Linked DNA regions of Homo sapiens: regions 2 and 3 are each linked to region 1. The links come from fine-mapping of genetic effects on gene expression. A gene starts in region 1. Each other region holds a variant in brackets. All regions are shown on one strand. Distances are between the middles of the regions.

The links. PIP is the estimated chance that this variant, and not a neighbour inherited with it, causes the effect.
Region 2: its variant is fine-mapped to the expression of PNKD in lung (TOPMed, PIP above 0.99).
Region 3: its variant is fine-mapped to the expression of PNKD in whole blood (TOPMed, PIP above 0.99).

The regions. Positions count from the first base shown.
Region 1 is chr2:218,266,977-218,273,460 of GRCh38, forward strand. It overlaps PNKD (PNKD metallo-beta-lactamase domain containing), which reads left to right and starts at 3,543. Exons shown (of 10, transcript NM_015488.5): 1 at 3,543-3,626; 2 at 4,405-4,573. The coding sequence starts at 3,560. It overlaps AAMP (angio associated migratory cell protein), which reads right to left and starts at 3,161. Exons shown (of 11, transcript NM_001087.5): 1 at 2,990-3,161; 2 at 2,406-2,558; 3 at 518-637; 4 at 1-10. The coding sequence starts at 3,110. RefSeq lists enhancers at 1,454-2,339, 2,908-3,227, 3,378-3,757, 3,788-3,837.
Region 2 is chr2:218,322,652-218,329,135 of GRCh38, forward strand. The region is part of intron 2 of PNKD (PNKD metallo-beta-lactamase domain containing); the gene reads left to right. CATIP-AS2 (CATIP antisense RNA 2) reads right to left here. Exons shown (of 4, transcript NR_125777.1): 3 at 5,153-5,308; 4 at 3,590-4,496. It overlaps LOC124906179 (small nucleolar RNA U13), which reads left to right and starts at 5,929; the gene lies at 5,929-6,029. RefSeq lists a silencer at 225-744 and enhancers at 227-822, 3,858-4,602. The variant C/T (reference allele first, on the strand shown) is at 3,216.
Region 3 is chr2:218,313,711-218,320,194 of GRCh38, forward strand. All of the region lies in intron 2 of PNKD (PNKD metallo-beta-lactamase domain containing), which reads left to right. All of the region lies in intron 1 of LOC105373881 (a long non-coding RNA gene), which reads right to left. LOC105373880 (a long non-coding RNA gene) reads left to right here and starts at 3,040. Exons shown (of 2, transcript XR_923909.3): 1 at 3,040-3,173; 2 at 4,245-6,484. The variant C/T (reference allele first, on the strand shown) is at 3,050.

The DNA of each region.
Region 1 (6,484 bases):
TCTTTATGGCCTTCAAAGAAAAGTGGGCAGAAAACAGAGGAAAAAAATAGGGTACCTGGTGCTGGGGGCATGTGATTCTGGTATCTGGCCCACTGAAAGGACCAGCTAGGAAAAAAAGAGGGGCGGGACTGAGCAGAACAGGTGCTGGAACTCACCACCACTCTAGGAACCAATACTCCCATGTCTGCTGGGAGACACTGCTGGCCCTCACTCAACCAGACCAAGTCCCAGCCTCCTATGCCTTCCCCCTTCTGTCCACTCTACACCTCTGCCCGCCTGCTCCTATACCAATGTGGCCTTCTCTGGCCTTTCCTGGATTCCCTTGGCCAATTAGTGCCTCCTGCCTCTGTGCCCAAAACACACTAGTATTCGCCCCGTGTCCCTGGGGCCCAGCACAGAGCTGGCACAAAAGAGATGTCACTAAGTGGCTGTTGGATGCACAACCTCTGCAGGTCAGCCTCCTAAGATCTCCCAAAAGAATATGACCTCTCCCAGGCCTCTACCCCAGCCCCCTCACCTGCACACTCAAAGAGCAGCTCCCCATCGCTGAGCCGCCATACGAAGGCTTTGTCATCTTCACCCCCGGTCACTGCCAAGGTATTGGTCTTGGGGTCCAGGCTCACACAAAACACAGATGCTGTCCCAAGAGATATTCCATGGGTAAGGGGACAGAGCTCCCACCTAGGGCTCTGTCCTTCACAATCTTCAGGAAACCCACCCCCTTTCACCCAAAGCGTGTCTTTCCTCCTGGAAAACACAGGTACATCCAAGTTCTTCTAAGTTTCAAGAATTGGGTTGTTAGATCCTTCCCATATTTGCCAAGCTCCCTATTTGCCAGAGTAGATCCCCTCACTGTGTGACTCCCGTCACCACCCAACACCAATGCCATGGACAAGAGGTGGGGACAGGTGCAGGGCTTACAGTTGTCAGCATGGGATGCCACCGGGGTTGGGTACAGAGCGAGGAGAGCATCACGTTAAGGGTTTTTTGTTTTTTGTTTTTTGTTTTTTGAGACAGAGTCTTGCTCTGTCGCCCAGGCTGGAGTGCAGTGGCACAATCTCAGCTCACTGCAACCTCCACCTCCCAGGTTCAAGCAATTCTCCTGCCTCAGCCCCCTGAGTAGCTGGGATTACAGGCGCCCGCCACCACAACCAGCTAATTTTTGTATTTTTAGTAGAGATGGGGTTTCATCATGTTGGTCAGGCTGGTCTCGAACTCCTAACCTTCTGATCCACCCGCCTCGGCCTCCCAAAGTGCTGGGATTACAGGCATGAGCCACCGTGCCTGGCAACAGTTTCTTACTAAGAACTAGCACTTGAGAAAGTTATATAAAATATGCTCAAAAAGATATAATTATCTCTCATTTTATTTTATTTTTTTGAGATGGAATCTTGCTCTGTCGCCCAGGCCGAAGCGCAGTGGCACAATCTCAGCTCAATGCAACCTCTGCCTCCCAGGTTCAAGTGATTCTCCTTCCTCAGCCTCCGGAGTAGCTGGGATTACAGGCACATGCCACCACACCCAGCTAATTTTTTTTTTATTTTTAGTAGAGATGAGGTTTCACCATGTCGGCCAGGCTGGTCTTGAACTCCCGACCTCAGGTGATCCACCCGCCTTGGCCTTCCAAAGTGCTGTGATTACAGGCATGAGCCACCGCACCTGGCCAATTATCTCTAATTTTATACTCACTACTTTTATTAACTTTTATCAAAGATAACTTTTTTTTTTTTTTTTTTTTTGGAGACAGACTCTCATTCTGTTGCCCAGGCTGGAGTGCAATGGCGCAGTCTTGGTCCACTGCAACCTCCGCCTCCCGGGTTCAAGCAATTCTCCTGCCTCAACCTCCCGAGGAGCTGGGACTACAGGCGCCCGCTACCACGCCCAGCTAATTTTTGTATTTTTAGTAGAGACGGGGTTTCACCATATTGGCCAGGCTGGTCTGGAACTCCCGACCTTGTGATCCGCCTGCCTGGGCCTCCTAAAGTGCTGGGATTACAGGCGTGAGCCACCATGCCCAGCCAAATTTTTGTATTTTTAGTAGAGACTGGGTTTTGCCATGTTGGCCAGGCTGGTCTCGAACTCCTGACCTCAAGTGATCCACCTGCCTCAGCCTCCTAAAGTGCTGGGATTTCAGGAGTGAGCCACCACGCCCGGCCAAAGATAACTTTTTAAAAGAAAACTAAGAGGTTAATCAAGGTTAACTGGCAAAGTAGAGGGTGTCTCGACTGATGCCAGAAGCCAAGCAATCATCCATTCTGCCACACTTTCCCACCTGTGGGCTCCTCCAGCGCAAGGCCAGCATCTTGCCCATCTCTGTGTCCCCCATAACGTTCTGTCCATGGCTGATGTTTAATGCTTACACGCCCACCTAAACTGATTTGAGGTGGATCGCCTCAAAGACCTACCTGAGTGCAATGCAAAGGTGACCTCGCTATCGTCGGGGCCCTCCATGCTGCCGACCACCCCTTCCTGGGGTTCTAGAACCCAGCCCTCTTCGTTGCCCTCTTCCTCCTCTTCTTCCTCAAAGTCCACATCTTCCATCTCCTGGGCCAGGTCATCTGCTTTGGGGAGAGGGTTAGAAGATGGGGCTCGGGAGGCGGTAAGAGGTACGGAGAGAAGCATGAGGAGGCCTGAGGCTGGGGCGGGTCATGTGGCGAGAAGGGAAGGTGGAGTCAGACACACCGGGGTCCGCGGGGGCGCGCGGGACACAGGACGGGAGGCCACGGCTGGCCAGAGACCGTGCGGTAAGGGAGGGCCAAGGGGATGATGGGAAGGGGGTGTGTGAGGGGAAGGGCCAGAGGAGGCGTCAGGGAACCCCCACCCCAGCCAGGCCTGAGAACTAAGTGTGAGGGTGGGAGTGGGGGAGGAGGGGAAGAGGGATATCGGTAGGAATGACCAGTCGGGTGTGGAGGGGAGCGGGGAAAAGCAGGAGTCAGAGGCCAGGGGTGAGCGTCTCCTGTCCCATGGCCTGAGGAGCGGCAGTTCTCACCTGGGTCCGGCGGACCGGGATCAAGTTCTACCACCTCGATAATCTCTTCATCACCATGGAAGCTTAGGGTCTCCAGTGGGGGGGTGTCAGCAGCAGCCCCGCTTTCCGATTCGGACTCCATGCGGCGCAAGCGGCGGATCCACTTCTCTGGGCCCAAACGCCTCCCAGAGTCAGCTCTGCGCGACGACGCGGAACTCGAGCCCCTCCTCCCGGCAGGAAGTAGGCGTAGGCGACTCCCCAGCAGGAAGAGCGACGGCCGTTCGGCCAATAGCTACGAAGGTTGGCTGGCCGCCTCACCAATCACAGAGCGGCATTGGAAGATGGGGCCGGGGCGTGGCGGAGAGAACCCAAACTCCGCCCCACCTGACTCCGCCCCCAACTGGAGGGAAACAAGCGAGCGCGCGCGCCTCCGGGGTCTCCTGGGAAGAGTAGTTCTCCTGGGTCCGCTCTGCGGGCTTCTGGGAGATGTAGTTTCTGGTCTGTAGGCAGGACGGAAGGAGCGGGGGAGGCCCCTTACGCAAACTACAATTCCCGGCGGGGAGCGCGGTGAAGCGGGGGTGGGATCTGAACATGGCGGCGGTGGTAGCTGCTACGGCGCTGAAGGGCCGGGGGGCGAGAAATGCCCGCGTCCTCCGGGGTAAGGAGAGGGACCCCGGGGAGGGCAGGACTGCAGAAGATCCCTTTTCTTTCACGTCCAGCCCGACGATAGCAGGAGGTCAGGGCTCTTGGTTCCTCCCCACACTTTTCTGCAAGATCTTAGAGTCTGGGGGTGCAGAGATGCTCTTTAGAGGTCACCCAGTGCATCCCCCCGCCTTCGGGTTGCTCGACACCTCCGGGGTCTTGCTGCAAGAGGGAGCTCCTAGGAAGCCTGTTGGACTCCCGCGCTCCAGGTGTTTCACACTCACCGCAGTGCAGAGGAAAGAGCCCCGGGCTTCTGGAGGTTTGAGTTCCAGCCCCGGATAATTAGCAGTTTGACCTTGGGCAAAGCAGTTTTTCTCTCAGGGCTTCAGTTTCCTCTTCCGTACAGTGCAAGGGATGGAGTAGACTATCTTTAAGGTCCCTTCCAGTGCTAACATTTGCAGTTTCAAAACCTTTTCCCGGATTTCCTTCATACGTCTTATGTGAGTCCCACTGCAGTCCTTCCCATGCTGTCGTCTGAGGAAGAACAGCGAAGCTTTTCGTCCTGGCACCAGGGTGATGAGCCCGCAGTGACGTGGAAGTGGCTTCCAAAGGTGCCACCTCGGTGGCGATTTTCCCATTTCCCTTTGGATTCTCCTTGGCACTTCTTACTTCAGACTGCAGTCACTCCCCTTCCCCAGATCTCAGCCGCTCCTCCCAAGCCCTTACTGCCCCCCACCTCCCCGCTTGCTTTCTTCTCATCTCTTCTTACTGACCTTCCTTACCTCCATCCACAGGGATTCTCGCAGGAGCCACAGCTAACAAGGCTTCTCATAACAGGACCCGGGCCCTGCAAAGCCACAGCTCCCCAGAGGGCAAGGAGGAACCTGAACCCCTATCCCCGGAGCTGGAATACATTCCCAGAAAGAGGGGCAAGAACCCCATGAAAGCTGTGGGACTGGCCTGGTGAGTTTTAACCACCCCTTTGCCCACCAACGGGGCGTGGCTTGTAGGGGAGGGCAGGACTTAGAAACTTCTCCAAGTTTCAGGTGGCGAGCTGAATCCAAAGTTGTGGGAACAGAATTGTTGGGTTCGATTGGAATCTCAGAGGGGTGGGGCAGTGGAGGTGGGAAAGTATGTGGAATTGAGAAGACAGTGGGTTTACTGTGGAGTAAGCTGAGTTGATCTGATTCAGACTTGGGTCCCTGGCCTCATCCTCCCTTTTGGGAGCTTGGAGTGAGACCCAAGTTTAAGTAAGTAGTTCGTTGAGATCATGTGAGCTTGTACTAGTTGTATAGTAGTACTCAGAAGGCGTTATGAACATTGTGATTGGGCTCTGACTCTGACCTTAATACATATTATTGACCAATATTAAAGAGAAAGGAGGAAGAAATCAACATTTTTTTCTGCATGTGAGGTGTGCCAGTACTTTGCCATGTAATGTTTTAGTGTTTGAGATAAGTATTACATCCCCATTTCACAGAGGAAGGAACTGAGACTGAGCTAGGATTCTCACCTAGTCTGTGACTCCATGCTCTTTCCCCCATACCAAAGTGCCTCCCAAGCAGTGGTTACTTAGCTTAAGAGGGGAAAACTGGGAGGGTACCTTGGCCAAGTCTCAGAGAGGGAAAGCGTCAGGGCTGCCTGGAAAATCCTGCACAGGTGCTGTTGCAGGAATGCAGGGCTCGTGCTGAGGATCAGGCTCTAGGCGGGAGGAGGAAAGAGGCAGGCAGAGACCCAGCCACACTGGGCCTTTTGTGCCATGTTTGGACTTGGCCAGGAAGTGATGGAGTTACGGGGTTTTAAGCAGGGAAGTGACAGGATCTGATTTGTGTGGGTCCCTCCAGCAGCCAGCACAGAGGATGAATAGACTATAAGAGGTATTGCAGCATTCATGCAACTGATGAAGCTAGAATGACTCCCCCCAGCTCCTCTGGCTCAGGCTTGGCCCCTCCCCAAACCCCGTGCACATCTCCCCACCCGTAGGGCCATCGGCTTCCCTTGTGGTATCCTCCTCTTCATCCTCACCAAGCGGGAAGTGGACAAGGACCGTGTGAAGCAGATGAAGGCTCGGCAGAACATGCGGTTGTCCAACACGGGCGAGTATGAGAGCCAGAGGTTCAGGGCTTCCTCCCAGAGTGCCCCGTCCCCTGATGTTGGGTCTGGGGTGCAGACCTGAGGAGCGCTGCGACCCTCCTAGGCTATTGACTGTTAAGTCCTCAGGTTTGGCCCAGATTCCAGTTCGTGCCTCTGAGGTCCACCAGAGGGCGCATGAAGCCCAGGCTGTTGCCAAACCCTACCCTGCCCCACACCAAGGAGCCAGCCAAAGGCAAATAAAGTTATTGAGTGTTTAGTAGAAAGGAACCAGGTCTGGGTTTGTGAGTCCCTTGGGATGGGAGGGGCAGAGGGTGGGGCTGGTTACTCATGTGTGCTCCCTCTCACAGAGCTCAGTGTTCCCAGCTGGATGGTGGGGCAAACCCAGAGACTTAAGTGCAACCAGCCTAGGCCCCGGGCCCTCGGGACCAAGCCCTCAGAGCTGCCGGCCAGGAGGGTGGGGTCCCGCTCAGCCTTGAAACAATAAAGAGAATCAAAGAAGGTATTCAGGGTGTGGAGGCAAAAAAAAGCACTGCTCTTTACTGAGTCCAAATGACTCGACTCTGGGCCTCAGTTTCCTCATTTGTTTTGTTTTTTGTTTTTTGTTTTTTGAGACGGAGTCTCGCTCTGTTACCCAGGCTGGAGTGCAGTGTTGTGATCGTCAGCTCACTGCAACCTCCACCTCCTGGGCTCAAGTGATCCTCCTACCTCAGCCTCCTGAGTAGCTGGGACCCCAGGTGAGTGCCACCATGCCCAGTTACTTTTTGTGTTTTTTTTTTTTTT
Region 2 (6,484 bases), 56 kb after region 1:
GCAATTTATCACGCGCATATGTATGTGTATGCATAAACAGATATAATTTTGTTTGCTCGCTTATTTGGTTCGTCGCCTCACTAGATTCCGGACTGTGGGCTCCAGGAATGCAGACAGTGTGCCTTTGACCCTTGCATCCTCCTCAGAGCCTGGCAGAGTGCCAAGTACATAGGAGGAGCTAGAAAAGTAATTCGGCGAATGAATAAATCCATGAATGGCAGCTGACCCCGATGATCTCTCAGGTTTCTGCCAGTTGAGAAAGTGTAGCAGTGCCCTGGACGGGGAGGCGGGCGGGGCGAACTGCGAGCTCCTGCCCCTTCCCAGGGCTCAGGCGACTGTGGACCCCGATCAGCGCAGGCTCGCGGCCCGCTGTGGCCCCGCCTCCTGGCCGCCAGCCGGGCGGAGCCAGGCCGCCCCCCAAGCCGGGTGGCCTTCGGGGTGCTTGCCCGGCTGGAGGTGGTGAGGGGGCGGGTCCAAAGGAGAGGTCAATGGGCGGGGCGGGGCCACAACGCCCCCACGTCCAGAGCCGGCAGGCAGGTTCCCCGCGGGGGGCCGGGGCCGGGCCGTTGCCTAGCAACGCCGAGCCCCGCCCGGCCGGCGCGTGCCTGCCCCCAGCATGGCTTGGCAGGGCTGGCCCGCGGCGTGGCAGTGGGTCGCCGGCTGCTGGCTCCTCCTCGTCCTTGTCCTCGTCCTACTTGTGAGCCCCCGCGGCTGCCGAGCGCGGCGGGGCCTCCGCGGTCTGCTCATGGCGCACAGCCAGCGGCTGCTCTTCCGAATCGGGTTAGTGCCCGGGCTCCGAAGCGTGCGGGCTCGGGAGGCGGGCGCGCTGGGAGAGGGGACTGGGAGGCGGGGGCTGGAGCTGGGGGTGGGCGTGGCGGTTAGGAAGGGGCTTGGTCTAAGGGAAGAGGGATCGAGGAGACGGACTGGAGAAGCCACTGAGTTGGGGGGCCTGAGGGATTTGGGGGGCTGGACAATTGGGATAAGCTGGGGAAGGAGGATCGGAGAGGCGGGCCAGGGTGGCCACGGAAGGAGGGCGTGAGAGGACATCTGGAGCAAAGTGCCACAGAATGGGCTGGAGACCAGGAAGCTGGACAGGGGGATAGTGCAGGAGCCAGGGCTGGGAAGACCGTCCCTGTCCGGGGGTGAGGTCAGCAGATGCCCGGGCTCCGATGGCAAGTGCCGGAGAGAAGGAATGCCTCCCACCGTCTGACATTTAAAACCGCCAACTCCTTTCGTATGTCCTTGTCCCACTCCCCAGCATCCAACTCCTCACCAGTCAAGTTAGGTTCTTCTGTCCCAAGCAAGAGTCCCAACCCTGTTGGATTCCAGTATGTCCCTTTCCTTCTAACCAAAGCCTGGCCCGTGTGGAAGCCCCAGGCTGTGAAATCTGACCCAACTGACTCTGCCCACTTTTCCAGTGATTTGTCTCCGTCGACCCTCCCCCGCTCACTCTGCCCTCCTGCCTCCCTCTACCCCTTCCTTCCTGGCCCCAGGGGAGGGTGGTGCCTAGCAAGCACTGTTCAGCCCCAGGGACACTGAGAGGCAGGGAAGAAGACAGGCCTCCGAGGCCCCCTGTCCCCTTCCTACTACCAGCCTGGCCATGGGTCAGGACCTCAAGCCCCAGTTTAGGGACAGTAATGTTGGGGATGGGAATTGTGAGAGCCCTGGCCACAGGCCAGGTTGTGGGGAGAGCCTAAGCCTGGGAATTTCCCGAGCTTCCGAGCAGACATTGTGCAATTCACCCTCTCCTCCCCAGACCACCCCACACGCCCAGAAGCTTCAGGCGCAGGATTCCACTCACAGTCTAAGAAATGCAGATATAAAGGCAGGATAACTAGAAAAACATGGTGCTGGAGGGTGGGGTGGGGATCTTGTGTTTGTGCCTTTTGGGGCATTCACATCTCTAATATCCTAAACCTTGGTCGCAGTTTAGATAATGTGCCAAGTAAGTTACCATTGCTCTGCACGTTGCATTAAAATAATGAGATTGAAAAATATTTAGGCCAGGTGCGGTGGCTCACGCCTGTAATCCCAGCACTTTGGGAGGCTGAGGCAGGTGGCTCTCCTGAGGTCAGGAATTCGAGACCAGCCTGGCCAACATGGTGAAACGCCATCTCTACTAAAAATACAAAAATTAGCTGGGCACGGTGGTAAGCGCCTGTAATCCCAGCTACTCAGGAGGCTGAGGCAGGAAAATTGCTTGAAGCCGGGAGAGGGAGGTTGCAGTAAGCCGAGATCGCAGCCATTGCACTCCAGCCTGGGCGACAGAGTGAGACTCCGTCTCAAAAAACAAAAAAAAGAAAAAGAAAAAAAAATCCCAAACATGAAGGTATCTAAATAATTTTCTTTTTTTTTTTTTTTTTTTTTTTTTTTTGAGACGGAGTCTCGCTCTGTCACCCAGGCTGGAATGCAATGGCATGATCTCAGCATGGTGAAACAGGGTTTCACCGTGTTGGTCAGGCTGGTTGCAAACTCCTGACCTCATGATCTGCCCACCTCAGCCTCCCAAAGTGCTGGGATTACAGGCATGAGCCACCGCACCCGGCCTTTTTTTTTTTTTTTTTTTTTTTTGAGACGGGCTCTTGCTCTGTTCCCTAGGCTGGAGTGGTGCAGTGGCACAATCTCAGCTCACTGCAACCTCCGCCTCCCGGGTTCAAGCAATTCTCCTGCCTCAGCCTCCTGAGTAGCTGCGACTACAGGCACCTGCTACCATACCCAGCTAATTTTTGTATTTTCAGTAGAGATGGGGTTTCATCATGTTGGTCAGGCTGGTCTTCAACTCCTGACCTCATGATCTGCCCACCTTGGCCTCCCAAAGTGCTGGGATTACAGGTGGGAGCCATTGCGCCCAGCCCATATTTGGGATTTTTAATGAAAACATTTTCTCCCCACAAAATTTCTGGGAATTTTACAGCCTTATCTGGGGAAAGATTTTTAAATCTACTTCTAGCTTTCAAAATTAGTAAGTTTGAGGTCATACAAATGGCCTGAGGAAGTGGAAAATAGAAGTTTCCATAAGGAACTGGAATCAGAATTCCTGAGATCAGAATGCCAGGATCACTATCTCAGAATCTTGAGGGTGTGGGTATGCCTGGAACTTGAGACGTGGGATTTTACAAATCTCCAAAACTCTAATCATTGGAGAGCTTCTTCAAAATGCAGTATTTCTACAGGCTTTCCTGTGTCTGGATTTCAAAGTTGCTTTGGAATCCACT[C/T]CTCAAATTTGCAGAGAGAAGGGTGCGCCTGGAGTCAGAATTCCAGACCCTGCTCCTCATAGTCTGGGAAACAATCAGTCCAGTCCCCAGGGGGAGATGCTGCTGGCTGCTGGGAGGGAAAGGAGATATTTGCAGGAAACTGTAGGGGGGAAATGGGCAGGTGTTGGTGCTAGGGGTGCCTCCAGGAAGGATGGGGAGGGAGGGGGAACGGAATGGGACAGGACATGATGGGGAGGGGGAGGGCACATGCACTACCAACCTGAAGGTGTGGCTGGGAGGATCGCAAATAGAGGATTCTACTGGGGGTGGAAAGGCAATGATGGAAACACCAGGCTCACCGGGAGGAGAGCTGTTGACCATGTTATCATTAGTAATCATCATCCCTGGTGTTTGGCAATTTAATAAAAGGCTTTCCTTAACCATAACTACAATTGTCTTAGGATGAGGATAGCTGAGCACAGTGGCCACAGGTGAAACTGGTGAGACACATGCATTTGGGGCTCTGTGGGGCCTGGGAGACAGTGTGGATTGTAGCAAAGCACACAGCATGTGGGGTCGAACAAATCTGCTTTTGCATCCTAGTTTTGTTGCTTAGTAGCCATGTGACCTTGAACAAATAACTTCTCTGTGCCTTAGTTGTTTGCATCTATAAAGTGGGGTTGGGGATGCCTACCTCATAGGGCTCCTGTGAAGATCAAATGAAACCGCATCTAAAATACACAGGGCCTGGCTCAAAAAGAGTGTTCAGGAAATGTTAGCAGGTGTTCCTGATGTGGCCTGGAGTTGGGTGGGAGAGTATCTATGGCCCTGTGTCCTTCTGGAGCTTCCTTACTTAATTCCACCCCTGTCTTCCAAGCCTGTCCTACCCACCACCCAGCAGGAAACTCCACATCCCTTCATTCAGCCAGGGAACACCTAGCTGCCCTAGGTAAGGACTGTGGGGTCCCAGATATGAACAGGTTCTGATCGCTGTTCTGCAGGGAAGGGGAAAGCACAGGTGAACAGATATAAACAAGGGCCCAAACCCGGGAGGAGGCAGGCCGTGGCAAGCTCCCCAGAAGCAGCACAATATGCCTGGGGAGTCAGATCAGGAATGTGGGACTCCCCCGTGCGTGCCCCCTGCTTCATGCCTCAGTTGCCCTTTTGCCTTCTTAGGGGTAGTGGTGGGGGTTTTGCAGAACAAAGTCTTGAGGAGAGCCTCTGTCTGCAGAGGGGAGACGAATAGGACACAGGCAGGTCTGGGAGTGTCTTGCAGAGCCGAGGAGGTGGGTAGCAGCTGGCCTGTGGAGAAAGCCAGTCCTAGTGACAGCCTTCCCTCCCTGACCAAGCCCCCTCTCCATTCCTAGGCATAGAAGGTCCTTCCTGACCCTGGCAACCCCCCCTGGGACGGACCTAGCTTGCTCTACTTCTGCAAGAGGAAAGCCGTTATCTGGGGCCAATGCGTCCCACTGGCTTGATTTCAAGAGTGGCAGAAGCCTGATGGAAGGGTCCTTGAGTGAATCCTCCCAGCCCCCCGAATGAGGCCAGGTAGATGCAGTGAGCTGGGCTATCCATGTCGCAGCCTGGCAGGAGGGGAGCAGGATCCTTTTCCTTTCTGGGGCCTGTGGGACCGTGGAGAACTGTGGCCAGAGCACCCACAGCAGCCTCATGCCTCCCTGCTGCTCTCTGCTCTCCCCACTGACACAGCTTCCCCCTGCTGCCTGGTTCGTCTTCAAAGTGTGGCTCTGATCAAGTGTCCCCTTCTGCAAGCCACATTGCCGACAGTATGGAGCCACGCCCCTCGCCCAGGCCTTTGCAGCCTTCCCACACCCCCTACAGACCTGCCCAGTTTCATCTCCCCCAGGCCTGAGCTGTTCCTGCACTTCTGTCTGACCTGTCCTGCCTTCCTTCCTCCCTACATCTCTACTGTCAAATTCTGTTGCATCTTCAAAGCTCACCTTCAAAGGTACCCAGAATGTGAACACTTCTCCCTGCCTCCACTGCCACCACTCTGGGCCAGCCAGGAGAATCGCTTGAACCCAGGAGGCAGAGGTTGCAGTGAGCCAAGATTGCGCTATTGCACTCCAGCCTGGGTGATAAGAGTGAAACTCCATCTGAAAAAAAAAAAAAAAAAGGAAACTGTTACTTAAGTCAGGAATGGATTACTTCTCTGCTCAAACTCCTCCGGCGAGTTCCCACCTCTCTCATGAAGTCCAAGTCCATTCGAAGAGTGGCTTCAGGGCCCTCTGTGACCTGCCCATCCTTACCACATCTTTTAGCACCCTTCAGCCTGTTCCTCTGTCTCAGCCACAGCTGGTGGCCTCTCCACGGTGCTTCAGTCCTAGCTGAGAGGTCTGGGCTAATTCTGTTTCTGCCGGTCGTAATCCCAGGCCTCAAATACACCAAGACAACCCTACCATCAGGCCTTTCTGTGGCTCCACATGGCTTGCTGCCTCACTTCCTTCAGGTCTCTGCTCAAATTTTGCCTTATTTGAGAGCCCTGCCCTGACCACCTCACATAAAAATAGCACCACCCTCACCCCTGCACCCTGTCCCCTCTCTGGCTTTATGTTCACCCTAGTTCACATCACCATGGGACACACTAAATGTTGATTGTTTTTCTCCCCCAACCAGAATATGGCTACACAGGGGGAGAAACTTTGTTCAAGACTGTATCCCAGATTCCAGAACAGTGCCTGGCACCTAGGTGGCCCTTACTAAATGCCTCTGAATGATCCTTTTGTAATTCCTAAGTATGACTGGGTTTTCACACACATAGGTAAGATGCACCTCCCTCAAACCTTGTGATGATGTCAGCACGGTATCCGTCTGATGTGAAAGAAAAAAAGTTTCTGAATGAATGCATGCGTGCATGAATAAATGAATGAAAAGCTTGGCTCAGGTGCCCTTTTCTCCATGAAGCCTGCCCGGCCTCCTCAGTCAAAATGAACCTCTGTCTCCAGACCGCCCCCAGCACTGTCTTCCCTCTTCGAGCTTCCCGTGCGCATTCTTGCTTGTACTGGAGTTAGGTGTTCACGGACCGGCCTTCCTGACTGCTCTGTGTTCCTAAGGGGCCTTGGGGCCGGGCACAGTGGCTCACACCTGTAATCCCAGCACTTTGGGAGGCCAAGGCAGGTGGATTTCTTGAGGCCGAGAGTTTGAGACCAGCCTGGTCAACATGGCGAAACCCCATCTCTACTAAAAGATACAAAAATTAACTGGGCATGGTCACGCACCCCTGTAATCCCAGCTACTCAGGAGGCCGAGGCAGGAGAATCGCTTCAAACTGG
Region 3 (6,484 bases), 47 kb after region 1:
ATTTTTAAGGCCTTGATGCATATTGGTAATTGCTTTCCAGAAAATTATACAAATTTGATGTCCCTACAAACCATGTATGAATACTCAACTTCCCATATTCTTAGAACTTCAGGATTTTATTCTTGTTTTTAATATTGGCATTTTGGTTAAGTGAAAATCAAATCTCGTTGTTTAACTGCATTTTCTTTATTTCTTTTTTTTTTTTTTTTTTTTTGAGACGGAGTTTCACTCTTGTTGCTGGAGTTTCGCTCTTGAGGCTGGAGTGCAGTGGCGCAATCTCAGCTCACCACAACCTCCGCCTCCCAGGTTCAAGCGATTCTTCTACCTCAGCCTCCTGAGTTGCTGGGATTACAGGCATGTGCCACCACACCCGGCTAATTTTTTGTATTTTTAGTAGAGACAGGGTTTCTCCATGTTGGTCAGGCTGGTCTCAAACTCCCAGCCTCAGGTGATCTGCCTGCCTCTGCCTCCCAAATTGCTGGGATTACAGGCGTGAGCCACCGCGCCCTGGCTTTTTTTTTTTTTTTTTTTTTGAGACAGAGTCTCTGTCTCCCAGGCTGGAGTGCAGTGACATGATCACAGTTTACTGCAGCCTTTACCTCCCAGGCCCAAGAGATCCTCCTACCTCAGCCTCCTGAGCAGCTGGAAGCACAGGCGTGTACCACCAAGCCTGGCTGATTTTTTAAATTTTTTGTAGAGATGAGGTCTCCCTCTGTTGCCCAGGCTGGTCTGGAACTCCTGGGCTCAAGCGATCCTCCCACCTTGGCCTCCCAAAGTGCTGGGATTACTTGTACTTTGGGTGCAAGTTAGCCACCATGCCTGGCTATACTTGGATTTTCTTGATTCTTTTGAGTTTTCACATTTTTTCATATTTATTAGCCATTTATTAATTTATTAATTGAGGTCATTGTGTTTTCACATTTATTTAAGGTCTGTAATCACTCCTTGGCCTTTTGGCTAAGATCAAGTATATTTAAGTTCGTTTTTTTTTTTCTTTTTGAGAGAGTCTCACTCTGTCGCCCAGGCTGGAGTGCAATGGGGCGATCTCGGCTTACTGGAACCTCCACCTCCTGGGTTCAAGCGATTTCTTGTGCCTCAGTGCCCAAGTAGCTAGGATTACAGACGCCTGCCACCATGCCCTGCTAATTTTTGTATTTTTAGCAGAGACTTGGTTTCACCACTTTGGACAGGCTGGCCTTGAACTCCTGGCCTCAAGTGATCCACCTGCTTCAGTCTCCCGAAGTGCTGGGATGCCAGGCATGAGCCACTATGCCCGCCTGAGGTTTTCTTTCTTTCTTTCTTTTTCTTTCTTTCTTTCTTTCTTTCTTTTTCTTTCTTTCTTTCTTTCTTCCTTCCTTCCTTCCTTTCTTTCTCTCTCTCTCTCTCCTTCCTTCCTTCCTTCCTTCCTTCCTTTCTTTCTTTCTTTCTTTCTTTCTTCTTTCTTTCTTTTTTGAGACAGTCTTGCTGTGTCACCAGGCTGGAGTGCAGTGGCGTGATCTCAGCTCACTGTGACCTCTGCCTCCCAGGTTCAAGCTATTCTCCTGCCCCAGCCTCCCAAGTAGCTGGGACTACAGGCACGCGCCACCACGCCCAGCTAATTTTTGTATTTTTAGTAGAGACGGGGTTTCACCATGTTGGCCAGGATGGTCTCAATCTCTTTGACCTCGTCATCCACCCACCTCGGCCTCCACCCGCCTCGGCCTCCCAAAGTGCTGGGATTCCAGGCATGAGCCATGGCGCCCGGCCAAGGATTTAAATTTTAAAGTAACTAAAACAGTAATTATTTCCCTTGTTAGATCTTCTGTTGCTTTTTTCTGAATAATGTATGCCTTTAAGGAATAATAGGAATAATAAATGCCTTTAAGAATAACATACGCCTATTAAGGAAAATTAGAATGACGCATTTGTTATTTTTAGCTTTAGAAAATCCTCTGCTATCCAGATTGAACATGTCTTTCATTTTCTTCTAATTTTCTGTGGTTTAATTTTATATCCTTAACCCTTTAATTCGGGTAGAATTTATTTTGGTGGATTCTGTGAGGCACGAGTCTAAATTGCTCTTTTGTAAATAGCTAGTCACTCATCCATCATGTCTTTCCAGCATCATTAATATTCTGTTTCCCTCTGTCACTGTTAACTATTATTGCAGTAATGCTGCATAAGAAGCCAGTTCAAAACTCAGAAGCCTACAATCATAAGCATGTATCTTGCTCATGCATCTGTGGGCAGGCTGAGCTTTAGCTGATCTAGCTTGGGCTCTGCTGGGCTGGGTTGACTTCCAAGCTGTGAGTGGGATCCAGGTGGCTCCATGTGCCTTTCATCTCCCTTAGACCAGCAACATCAGTGGCGTGGGAAAATATACCTCGCCTCCATTGAAGTGATGCACAGTCACAGGGTGAACGGTATGTTTACAGTGAGAGATGAATAACTGGAAACTGAAATGCCATCTACCACACCTTTGGAGACAGCCTTTCAGGAAACTAGATTGTGTTGAGATAAAGGCAGAATGGAGTCTAGAAAATGGCACAAGGTCAAGGGAAGATTTTTTTCTTTCTTTCTTTTTTTTTTTTTTTTTTTGAGACAGAGTCTCACTCTGTCACCCAGGCTGGAGTGCAGTGGCACGATCTCAGCTCACTGCAACCTCCACCTCCCAGGTTCAAGTGATTATCCTGCCTCAGCTTCCCAAGTAGCTGGGATTACAGGCACCCGCCACCATATCCAGCTAATTTTTTGTATTTTTAGTAGAGACAGGGTTTCACCTTGTTGCCCAGGCTGGTTTCGAACTCCTGAGCTCAGGCAATCCGCCTGCCTTGGCCTCCCAAAGTGCTGGGATTACAGGCGTGAGCCACTGTGCCCGGCCAGGAAGTTTTTAAGGCAGGGAGATGCTGGAATTTGCTCTTAGGCTGAGGAAAATTGCAAAATATGTAGAGGGGTAGGTAGTCACAGAAATTGTTTTCTCTAAGAAGGATATTTGTTGAAAGTAAAGGAAATGACGTTGGGGCTTGAGGTTTGGAATAACAACTGCAGATGAGATGGGGCCTCAGCAAAA[C/T]GGAACTGCCAAGCACTGGTATCAGGGACTTGGGATGGCCTGAACCATCGCAGCCCTGAGTCATATGACACAGCAGTTTTCTTCAGCCCTGCCCGTGAGGTAGGAGACTGTCAGGTTGGTTCAGGTAGGTCTGAAGGTTGGTAGGTTAAGGCTGGAGGTCAAGGGGGTCAGGGGATCAGGAAGCTAACAGGTGGTAAGTAGTTCAAGGGATTGAGCCTAAGTTCAAATATAGGTGCAAGAGGGGCTGAAGGGCTGGAAGAAAACAAACTGCCTGAGGAGCTGGAACTGGAGGTCCATGTGTACTGGGGATGGGAGGGGATCAGGGAAAAGGACATTGGAATTTAGGTTCTCAGAGGCAGAGAAGTTCCAGGTGAATCTAGGGTGTGGCCATGTGAGCAAGCTGCTGAATTATGTCGAAGGCATTGGAATTGAAGTCAGGAACTGAGGTCAAGGCAGAGTTCAGAACCACCTATGCGAAATGCACACTCTTGGGCCCCAGCCAAACCTACTAAGTTTGAATCTCTGGGGGACGGACCAGAATTCCGTATTTTTACAAGCTCCCTGAGTGGTTCCTAGGCTCCCTAACACTTGAAAACTGCTGTGCTATGATGTTGAATGAGCCATGCTTGTTGGAATTACCTGATGGCAGGAATCAGGCAGGAAGACTAAAAACAGGTGTTGAAATCCTTAGAGAGTCTGGGCTGATCAGTGTATGGGACTGATGAGGAGGGGTGGAAAGAAGTTTGTACATGAGTCAGGAAGAGCAATGGCCTTGGCCTGGACTATTGCTAGTGCATTCCTTTCCAACCTGGAGACAATGTAGGAGACTAAAGGCTTCCACTGCAGAAGGCAGGGCAGTGAGAGAGAAGGTAGGGAATAGAAGACAGGGATCATATTCAGTCCAGACAGGCTGGGAGCTCTGTGAGAAGGCAGAGGACGTTGGGGAAGGATTTGTTTCAGACCAAACCAGGGTTCTGCAGGGTACAGCAAAATGGCTCGGACAGGAGTTCATGAGAAAATGGTCCACGAGGGAAAGTGAGCTTTGGTTGGGGATAACAGATGAGGGGATGGACTGGGCTAAGCAGAGGCCAGATTATCCCAGTCACCACTTCTGCACTGGGTTCACTTTTCTAAACTGAACTAATTTCTCCACCCAGGTCTGACAAGATGTCTCTTTTCTCTAACATTTAAACAGCTCCAACCATCTCAGCTCCTTCATGATTGTTTCGTCATCATCACCATCGTCACTGTCATCATCATCATCATCACCACCAGTGATTTCCTGAATGCCAACCAAGCACCAGTCATCAAGCGTGAGCCACGGTGCAAAGATGGAGGCAGGCTCTCCATTCTAAGGGAACCTCTCAGGCCAGTAGGGAAGGCAAGATTCAGACACCAGGGACAGGCAGCCTGGGATGACAGGTGGAACAAGGAGGAGACACAAGAACCCCCACCCCAACCCAGGAACCCACATCACAGGCCAGACCTGCATGATCGCCAGGCACCCGACTCGGGTTATGAAGGTGTCTCTCCTAAGAGAGTGGCAGAGGCAAACTTTAGCCTTGGCAGTGCGCCTCAAGCTGCTCAGGGGAGAAGTCACGGCCAAAGCCCTGGAGTGCATGGGTTCTTTAGCCATGGTTCTCCTGCAGCTTCCTCTGATATTATGAAGCGCCTGCCGCCACCAGGCTTGTTCTGACTCCCTTCCATGATCCACCCTTCTGAGTGGGGTTTGGCTTCTGTACAGCTCTCCTGTGGGCACTGAGCCCACTAGTCAGAGCAAGAGGGCTCCAGTCTCTGGACAGTCACAGTGCTTGGTGGCAAAACATAAATTGTCATTCATTCATGCCTTGTTTCTGTCATTCACTCATTCATTCAGCAGATACTTAACTGAACACCTGCTCTGGGCCAGGTATTATTCACACCACTGGGAATACAGTGGTGCCAACACAGGTCCCTCCCTGACTTCATGGGGCTAACATTCCAGTGGGAGTGACAGAAAAGATCCACAAAATAACATCACATTGTGAAAAGTGCTATGAAAGTGAAGGACGTAAGCACAGTAATATTAGTAATAGAGTAGAGAGTGAGGAGGTGGTGAGCAAAGGCCTCATAGAGGGAGTAACATTTTTTCTTTAATTTGATGTATACTTTACATATAGTAAAGTGCACAAATCTTTTCTTTTTTTTTTTCTTTTTTTTTTTTTTTTTTTTTTGAGACAGAGTCTTGCTCTGTCGCCCAGGCTGGAGTGCAATGGTATGATCTCGGTTCACTGTAACCTCCGCCTCCTGGGTTCAAGTGACTCTCCTGCCTCAGCCTCCCGAGTAGCTGAGACAAGAGGCTTGTGCCACCATACCCGGCTAACTTTTGTATTTTTAGTAGAGACGGGGTTTCACTATGTTGGCCAGGCTGGTCTCGAACTCCTGACCTTGTGATCCGCCCTCATCAGCCTCCCAAAGTGTTGGGATTACAGGCGTGAACCACTGCACCTGGCCATGCACAAATCTTTAATGTACAACTTGGTGAGTTTTTCAATTTGCGTATGTCAGACTCTCAACCTCTGTACTGCAGACATTGGGGCCATTTGTCCTGGGGACTGTCTTTCTTGTTTGTCTTTTTTTTTTTTTTTTTTTTTTGAGATGGAGTATTGCTTTATCGCCCAGGCTGGAGTGCCCTGGCATGATCTCGGCTCACTGCAACCTCCGCCTCTTAGGTTCAAGCAGTTCTCCTGCCTCAGCCTCCTGAGTAGCTGGGATTACAGGCACACACCACCATACCTGGCTGATTTTTGTATCTTTAGTAGAGACAGGGTTTCACTGTATTGGTCAGGCTGGTCTCAAACTCCTGACCTCGTGATCTGCCCACCTCAGCCTCCCAAAGTACTGGGATTACAGGCGTGAGCCATCGCGCTCGGCCCCGTCTTGTGTATTATAGGATGTTTAGCAGCATACCTGGCCTCTACCCACTAAATGTCAGTAACATTCCTCCCCACACAGTTGTGACCATCAAAAATGTCCCCAGACATTGCCATATATCTTCTGGGAGGCGAAATCGCCACTGTTGAAAGCCACTGGCATATGCCATGTAGCCAGCACTCAGCTCAAGATACAGGTTATTTCCACATGGAGGGGTTGGCGTTTGAGCTGACACCCAACAGCTAAGAAGCTGCCTCCAATTCAGAGAACTGGGGAAGGAATGTTCCAAGGGGAGAGAGCATAGGCAAAGGCCCTGAGGTGGGAATGAGCGTGGCACATTTGAGGAAGTGTGGCTGGTCCGTGGTGACAAGGGAAAGGCATCTGAGGAGGTTGAAGAGACAGGCTGGGCCCTATTGAGCAGGGGCTTTGTGGGATACGGTTAGGAGTCTGACATTTCAAAGAACGTTTGTGAGTATGTAATATGTACCTGGCACTATGCCAGACACTGGAGAGTTGAAGATG